Linked DNA regions of Homo sapiens: region 2 is linked to region 1. The links come from fine-mapping of genetic effects on gene expression. A gene starts in region 1. The other region holds a variant in brackets. All regions are shown on one strand. Distances are between the middles of the regions. Region 1 holds the start of PI15 (peptidase inhibitor 15). Region 2 has its middle 83 kb from the start of MIR5681A.

Evidence for each region. PIP is the estimated chance that this variant, and not a neighbour inherited with it, causes the effect.
Region 2: its variant is the best candidate, but not a certain one, in a credible set for the expression of PI15 in anterior cingulate cortex (GTEx, PIP 0.60).

Annotation. Positions count from the first base shown.
Region 1 is chr8:74,822,788-74,827,192 of GRCh38, forward strand. It overlaps PI15 (peptidase inhibitor 15), which reads left to right and starts at 1,747. Exons shown (of 6, transcript NM_015886.5): 1 at 1,747-1,888; 2 at 2,423-2,735. The coding sequence starts at 2,463.
Region 2 is chr8:74,463,093-74,467,497 of GRCh38, forward strand. It overlaps a transcript of GDAP1 not described here. Among named protein-coding and RNA genes, the nearest start is that of MIR5681A, 83 kb to the right of the region's middle. The variant G/A (reference allele first, on the strand shown) is at 1,846.

The sequences.
Region 1 (4,405 bases):
CATCTAACCTCTGATTTAATTCAGGAATCCTTAATATAGCATATTTGAGATTCATTGAAGGTGCCATGAATACTTTCCAAAGTGGTGCAACCCTAGTTGGACAGCTCCACTTGTTAAGATCTGCAGCTGTGAACAACCATGTGAATTTCCTCTAGTTGCTCCAATGTTTCATAATATCCTTGCTCACCTCCTGAGTTTATATATCTGTTTATGCCTTTTCAAGTTTAGTATTAATTCCTTGTTTAAAGCTCTCAATATTTCAGCTATGGCTCTCCTAAAATGATTTCACTTTAGTTAGGAGTTGAATAGTCATCAAAATGTGTCAAAACCTGGACTTTGGTATATATTATTATAAAGTCTGTATCTCATCACTGTAGTTTGAATTTTAGTGACACCTCTGGTACACCTCACTACCCTCTTAAAGAACTTGATGATGTCTGTCTCACCATAGAACGTGAATCTTTTCTCTCCCATTTTTAGGTGCACCAATGAAGAGTTAAACAGTATGCATTTGACCACACATACTACTCGTGATCCAACTGGGAATATATCCTAGGAAACTTGGCTGCCTGTCCAGTGTGCCACATGACCATCATTTCTGATGACTGTAAATTCACATAGTATTTCTTCTGCTGAAACATGTGGGAGACAATCACATTAGCAAGCTGGAAAAAATCAGTGTAAGTTAAGTAAGTTTCTAAACTGAAGAGCGTGTGTTTTCCAGGATTCCTATTGCTACTGACTGTAAGTGGTCCACATTTTGTTAATGAGATCATGACGCATTTTGGGGAGGGTCCTTTCATTATAGAGCACCAATGTTCACATTCTTCTTCTTGCTTTGCCTGACATAGACTTTGCCCCTGTGACATCCTCCTAACAAGGCACTTCTAATTGTTGGCAGCTGCTGCTGCTGTTAAAATTCTTCATGGCCTCTGTGTTATGCCCTCTAATACATTTCCTGAGAGGCTGAGCTATTCTCTGCTTAAAATTTCAACTATATGCTCTAAACCTGAAACAGATGTTATCTTGGCTGCTGTCATTTGCCATGAGCTTCTCTATTCACATTTTATACAAGGCAGGTAAAAAGCAAGTAATTTCTGACCTCACTCTGTAGAGAAAGAAAAAAGGGAGAGAAGGTAAAATAAGAGAGAGAAGAAGAAATATATAAAGCACAGGAATGCAGCCACATGGAAGCAGAGAACACAGCCACTTGAGCATCTATTATCCTAATATCATATGCTATAGTTTGGTTACTACCGATTTGCCTGGCATCCCTCTCGAATCATATTTGTGGCCACCCAGATTAACTATGTTAGCTGATCTCTTGATTTAATATCAGCTTGTTCTTTTTAGCTCCCATGTCATTTACTGTCTTAAAAAAATGTACTGCTTGTTACTCAACTGTCTGTTTTTTCATGAACCCACAGTCTTTTTTTTTTTTGTCTTTGTTTCTTCTTTTTTGTATGGGAACCAGGAACTAGAAAGCATAAAATGAGAGAAATTACTCACAGAAAAGGTGGAAGCCCAGAGAAAAAGGGGTTTGTCTTTTATGGCTTGTACTTTGTAAGCTGTGGGTGTGACTCAATTTCCTCACCACCCACATAAAAAGGTTGCCACCCAATCACTGTTTTTTTCTACCCCAAACCCCTCCCCTTTGATTTTGGCTAAGAGAGACCCTTAGAAAGACTGCCCTTTCTGGACGTTGCAAACTGTGACATATAAAAGCTGTTAGCTGCTCCTCTAGCCAGCAGCATTCAAACCTTGCAGAGCTTTGCTCTCAGAGAGTTTGTAAAAAGACACACTCCTCTTACAAGAGTTCATGCTACCACATAGCAAAGAACCTTAAATTTTTGGAAGAACAATATATTCATTTTGGCATTGTGCAGAGGTAAGCTATTTAGCTCAACAAGTTTATATTGCATGCATTGATTTTAAAGTAGCTCACATTTTTTTAAAGAAATGAGATTGGATTACTATGACTTTTTTGTATGTGTTCTATCACTTGGTGTGTCTATATGTCTGGCAGACATTATCAGCACATTCTCTGTTGTTACCTGTGATTCATTTTTTCTTCACTCTCCAGGTGAATTTCAATTGCTGAAAATTTCCCACTGAAAATATGCAGTAATATATTTTGTGGTTCAGACATTTGGGGCAAATGGTTCACATTCATTTTAGGGTTAGTGGTCATGCTGTTTATTTTTCTCTGCTATACAAAGTTCCTCTTAGGGGTCTGCCTCATGACACTAAAAAATGAATAGAGATTCTACTGTAGGTTATCTCCTAGGCTTGAGTTCAACATTTGTTTGGATTTTTGAAGAAAGTCAAATCAAGCAATGCTCCCAAATGATGTCTTTGTAAATTCATACCCTCTGGCCCTATTTTTTTTCATAGACCCTAACTCTACCTTTCTGCTTTAAAGCAAAGTAAACTCGGTGGCCTCTTCTTCTCCACCCCTCAAAATGATAGCAATCTCTGCCGTCAGCAGTGCACTCCTGTTCTCCCTTCTCTGTGAAGCAAGTACCGTCGTCCTACTCAATTCCACTGACTCATCCCCGCCAACCAATAATTTCACTGATATTGAAGCAGCTCTGAAAGCACAATTAGATTCAGCGGATATCCCCAAAGCCAGGCGGAAGCGCTACATTTCGCAGAATGACATGATCGCCATTCTTGATTATCATAATCAAGTTCGGGGCAAAGTGTTCCCACCGGCAGCAAATATGGAATATATGGTAAGAAGAATTCTTTTTTTTTTTTTTAAGTTCTGAGTGAGAAAGCTTTATATTGTACATCTGCAGAATCTCAAACGACCACGAGTGTTTATATGTCCGGGTATATGGACTTTTTACATATTTTAACCTAAGGTTCTTATGTGCCTAATAATGTTGAGTACTGTTGCATCACAGAATCAGAGAGACAGAGAGGTCCAGAGAGACAGAGACAGACAGATAGAGAGAATCTATGTAGACTTTCTTCTGTGAGTTCCATAGCTACTGGTGAATTGTATCTTATGTAAGAATCATAGATAAAAAGTGGGGTATGTTGACTGATCACATTTGGAAGGTCCACTTTAAAAAAAGTCACATGAACTTTTTCTGTGCTTTATCTCACAGTCATATTTATCAGCTATATCATTTCTTGAAAATACTTCTTAAAATTATAGGTTTCATATGCATGATTTATTCTCTGGGTAGGTGTCTTTTCCCTTTTTTGGACAAAGTTCTTACTGACGCTAACCTATTTGTATTCTAAGAGAACATGCTGACTTTTTTCTCCTTGTGATTTAATGCTTTGCTGTCCAGATAACAGTGAAGCCAGTGCATTTGCACACTGTTCCAACTTGCCGTGAACACATTTTTTGCTCTTTCTTAAAAATAGACAATGTTTAAATCATTTTACTTAGAAAGTAAAAAAAAAAGTTAGTATTGAAAGGAAAAAGTCTTGTTAAAATTTTTATTTGGTTTTGAATTTATGCAAGGTTATGATTTAAAGTCCAGCGTCTTACAAGAGCACAGCTTGGAGCCTGTTTAAGGCAATGAAGACCATCAATATGGTATTTCCAAATTGGGGTGAGGGGAGGGGGTACCACTAACAGTTTTATATGTGCTGAATTAAAATTTGGGATTTTTATCATATTCTAGATTCACTTGTTTTATGTAAATAAGTTATATTAAAAAGTTTGGCTAGTTGCAGATGCCAATGTCACAGGAAAACTAAAGACTTGCTAAATGATGTAACAGAGTCACAGTTCATAGAAGTACAATTTAGACTCTGTGAAAATGCATTTTCCTAGAATTTATAAAGACAGAGAAGATGTAATCAGTCCTGGTGTGTGAGGAGCAGTATAGTCTCATGATTAAGAATATGGGCTATATAATCTAAATGCTTGGGTTTGAATCCTAGTCCTGAAGTATATGCTGAATGAACTCATTACCACACTGTTTCATTTTCATCATCTCTAATATGAAGATAAAGGTGGTATCTGCCACACAGCATTGTTGTGAGAAATGTATGAGTTGACGAGTAATCAGACCAGAGCCTGTTGCTAACTAGATGTTCAACAAACATTAGTTTTGATGGGTTTCTTTGAACTTCTTGTGAAAGGTGCCCAGTGAAAACTCATTCAAGATCTAAAGACAAAAAGTTACCCATACAGAAGAGATGTTTTTAGAAGGTGATGTAAATATGTAAAAATTAGATGAGCAAACACATTTTTAAAATTACTAAAATGATGAAATAAATATGCCTAAGATACCATGCAAGCTCAGAAAGGCATAATATCCCAACTATGAGTTTAGAGAATTTGTAGCAATCACATGACTCTAAAGTGAGAACCAAGACTGCTGAGCCAGCTTTGAAGGTGAGCTCATCTGGGTTCAAATCCTAACTCTGCTGCTTACTT
Region 2 (4,405 bases), 360 kb before region 1:
ATTTCTAAGATTGATCCTCAGTTGTGGGCTGAAACAAATTGATGTAGCACAGTAAGCATGACTTCAAGAATATTTTAGGATAGGTGTGGTGGCTTATGCCTATAATCCCAGCACTTTGGGAGGCCATGGTAGAAGGATTGCTTGAGCCTAGGAATTTGAGACCAGCCTTAGGAACATAGGGAGACCCCATATGTATTAAAAAAATAAAAAAATAAATTAGCGGGATGTGGTATTGTGCACTTGTGGTCCCAGCTACTCAGAAGGGTGATATATGAGGATTGCTGCTTGAGCCCGGGAGTTCTAGGCTGCGGTGAGCTATGATTACACCACTGCACTCCAGCTTGGGTGACAGAGCGAGACCCTGTCTCAAAAAAAAAAACAAAAATAGTATTTTAACAGAGGTGCTACACAATATGCTGGAATGTGTCCAAAGTGGATCAAAGGATTCTTGCTGCAGGAAAGTGCATTCTGCTATGGAAAGTTTTAATAAAGCAGAGGTTGTTCCTCTGCTTTATTAAACTGTCTAATAAGCACACATCTAATTTAATAGAAATAAGTGTAAGACATATGTAGCTTTGGAGAGAAACTGTCTAATTTAATAGAAATAAGTAAGACATAGGTAGAGAAACTAAACATATGTAGAAATTGGAATATCAACCTTAAAATGGTTACTACCACAATTACAAGAAAGCAATTCAGTAATTGTAATAGTAATCAAAACTTCTGTGTATTGTAGTCATTTATGCAAATAGAGTTGGCTGTATATAAGCACAAATCAATACAAATGACTACATGATGGCGGGATTTATTTAGTAGAGGCCAAATTACTGAAATATCTAGCATAAAGGGAAAAAATCCATAAATACGTATGTACCTGCTATATCAAGAGAAATGCTATGAAACAACTAAAGGAAATGTGGAGGAAATATTTAGTTCTAATATGTTTAACAATACCATCCCAAGAGAGAATAAATGAAGGTGCTGCTGGTGCCTGAGTGGGATTTTAAAGGACAAATCTGGGTTTCCAGAAGGAAAGAGAAAAGACATGGAGACTTTTATCAACAAAACAGGTTTGGGTGAGGCATGCTAGAACCCCAAAGTGTGGAATGATTAGTCAAAGTAGAAAAAACTGGCACTCATAGTTGGCAGACAGTCCAAAATACAGTGCCAATAGGGGAGTGTCAAATTCCGGGTTAATTTAAGCTACTTCAATTCATGGTGACTTGATAAGTTGTAGCATTATAGCAGAGGGATCCAGGCTGCAGTAAAATTCAAAGTCAGTGGGGAACAGGGTCATATTTTAGTGGTTTGCTTGGTTTTCTGTAAGACCCTAAGCAACAGCAATTGAAATAAGAACAATGTGCAACCCTAAGGGAGGAGCAATTGGAAGGGGCTAGGAAGGCTGGCTGGCAAAAGCCCAATGAAGCAAGTTTGTTTTCAAGGAATAGTGTGGAAACTGAAAAACATATGGTTGTCCCTGCGTCCATCTAGACACCCTGAATGCTGGTTTTATAACAGCATACTACATTTTGTGCACACTTCCAGATGGAGCCCCTAATATGCTGTCTTGGCAGGATGCCTTTGAGTTGGGCCTGGATGTGATTGTATATGCTAAGAGTATTGCTAGAGATAAGAATAACTCCGTCAGACAAAGACTGAGGGGGAATGGACAGTCATGCCATATTTAGGGAAAGGGATATTAATTTCATATTCAAACCTAAATACCTGCCTACTGTCATCTTAAATTGTAAGTATCTTCCAAGATACTTACAATTTAAGATATCACCTTTTAAATTTAATTGTAAATAAGTATCTTAAATTTAAAACATCTAAACTTAAGCTGTC[G/A]GCCAGGCATGGTGGCTCATGCCTGTAATCCTAGCACTTTGGGAGGCCAAGGCGGGTAGATTGCTTGAGCTCAGGAGTTCGAGACCAGCCTGGGCAACATGGTGAAAGCCCACCTCTACTAAAATACAACAAGTTAGCTGGGCGTGGTAGCGTGCTCCTGTAGTCCCAGTTACTTGGGAGGCTGAGGCAGGAGAATTGCTTAAACCCGGGAGACGGAGGTTGCAGTGAGCTGAGATAGCACCACTTGCACTCCAGCCTGGGTGACAGAGCGAGACTCCTCTCCAAAAATAAATAAATAAAAATAAAAAAAAATAAACCTAAGCCGTGCTATTCTGCCTGAAACTAGTTCCTCCCTATCTTTATTTCAGGTAGGCGCACCCACTTGCTCAAGCCAGAAGTTTAGGAGTCATTCTTGATACACCTGCTTCCCTTACCCCTTTCATGCAATCTCTCGCCAAGCCTTATAAATTTTACCTACAAAGTACTGCTGGTCTCCCTTCCCTTCCACCTCCACTGCCCCACAGAGTTCAAGCCACCAAGTTCTCTGGACTAGATGATAGCCTGATAGGTTCTCCACTTCTCCTTCTCATCTTTCCCCAACACAGTCTCCATCGAGCAGCTTGATCATTTAAAATTGTAAGTCTGGTCAAATTACTCATCTGCTTAAAATAACCTCAAGCCTCCAATTGCTCTTAGCATAGCATTAAAATTCCCCACTATGGCTTCTGATGCTCTGCTGTTCTGCAAGATCTGGCCCTGGCTCCCTCTCCAAACTGCTTGTCAGTCACTCTTCCCTGCTTCAGGCACACTGATAATTTTCAGTTCTTTAATCACACCAAGTTTTTTTTTTTTTTTAATCAATTTAGGGCCACTTAATCTGGAATTTTTCATCATACTTCTAGGCCAAAAGAGAGACCTAGCAGTGTTATTTATTAAATAGTTATGAGCAGAGAACTTGGTATTTATTTGTCCTAACAACTTATTAGCTATTTTTAAAAAACACATAAATTGAAGAACATTTTAATTTCATTCTTAACTAATCACATTTATTAATATGATGTCTGCATCCCTTGCTTATAGCGCAGACTCTCAAACTTTGGAATCAGATTGGATACTGCCATACTCATTTTCTGTTCCACATTGTTTCTTTTCAGAGGGACGTGCTTTTTATCAGAGCAAAATATGCTTAAATCATGCTTAAAATATGCTTTGCAAAGATATGACTTCATAAAAAAATGTAGTGTGATCTAGCTCACCTTGTATCCAAAGGATATTGAGTATCTCTGGATTTCTCTCTGAAAAATTTAAGACATCTCAAAGCACCCCAGGGAGTTCACTGCAGGGCCCCAGGGTTCCTTGGAACACAGTTTGGGAACCATAGCTTTGGAGGGTTTTAGGGAAACGTGATCTGATTTGAGTTAGATTTTAACAGATTTACTTTGGCTTTGTGGAGAAAAAAACTGAAGAGGACGAAGGTAGATGTGTGAAGATCAGTTAACAGGCTACCACAGTAATTGAGAGCCAATGGTGAGAGCTAATGGTGGCCTAGACTGGAGTGGTAATAGTTGGGCAATGAGAAGGAGTGCTGCATAGATATGTTGAAGATAGAGCTTGCAAGATTCGCTGATAGATTGGATTACAGTTGTGGAGGACAGATCAAGGATAACTCTGAATTTATTGGTTTGATAACTGGAAGGATAGACTAACAATTTTAATAGGGGTAGGGGAAAAATAGGAACAGTTTTTACATGTTAAATTTGAAGGCGCTGATTAGATATCCAAGTAAAAACGTTAAATAGGAAGCCAGGGTCTGGTGTGCAGGTGAGAGTTCTGATCTAGAGATACGTACATTTGTGAATCATCACTATGTATTTGCAGGCAGGAGACTGAGTGACATCTCCAAGGGAGTTGGCTATAGAGAGGAGATATTCAAGACAAATGACAGCAGATTTATGCACTGCTGGGAGAGACTCAGATAGAGGGGAATAGATGCTGCTGCTGAAAGGGAAGAATTACTCAATAAGGAATCACGGACTCTAATCCATAGCCCTAGTTAAGGGCTGGCATTAGGAACACAGACAGCTTATACATAGGAATAGGGAAAAGAGTAGAGGATATGGGGATTAATGAAGGTAGGTATTTATATATGAAGATTATCAAAGTTCTCTTTTTATTGTTTCTGTCTTCTCAGTGAAATAGAAGCAAAGCCATCAGCTGAGAGGGACAGCAGTAGAGAAGGAGTTGGAAGTTTGAGGAGAAAGGAGAAGGGATAGAATAGCTGTCTTAGAGAGTGGAAGATCAAATGGAATAGGTTAATCATATCATTGGCGAGCATCATTGCTTACTGGAGCTTAGTGATCATGAGTCATGAATTAAAGTGAGAACACTTAGCATGGTTAAATGGTTTCTGAGCCAGGTTCAGCTTCCCTGGTTCAAGTGTGGAACAGATAAGCAGCTAGATTTAACCACTGTGACATAAGTTCAAAGTGTGATGAAGAAAGAGAGGGCAAGGGGTTTGAGGGCTTATTTGAGAGAGAGAGTATAATGATTGATCCTAGAT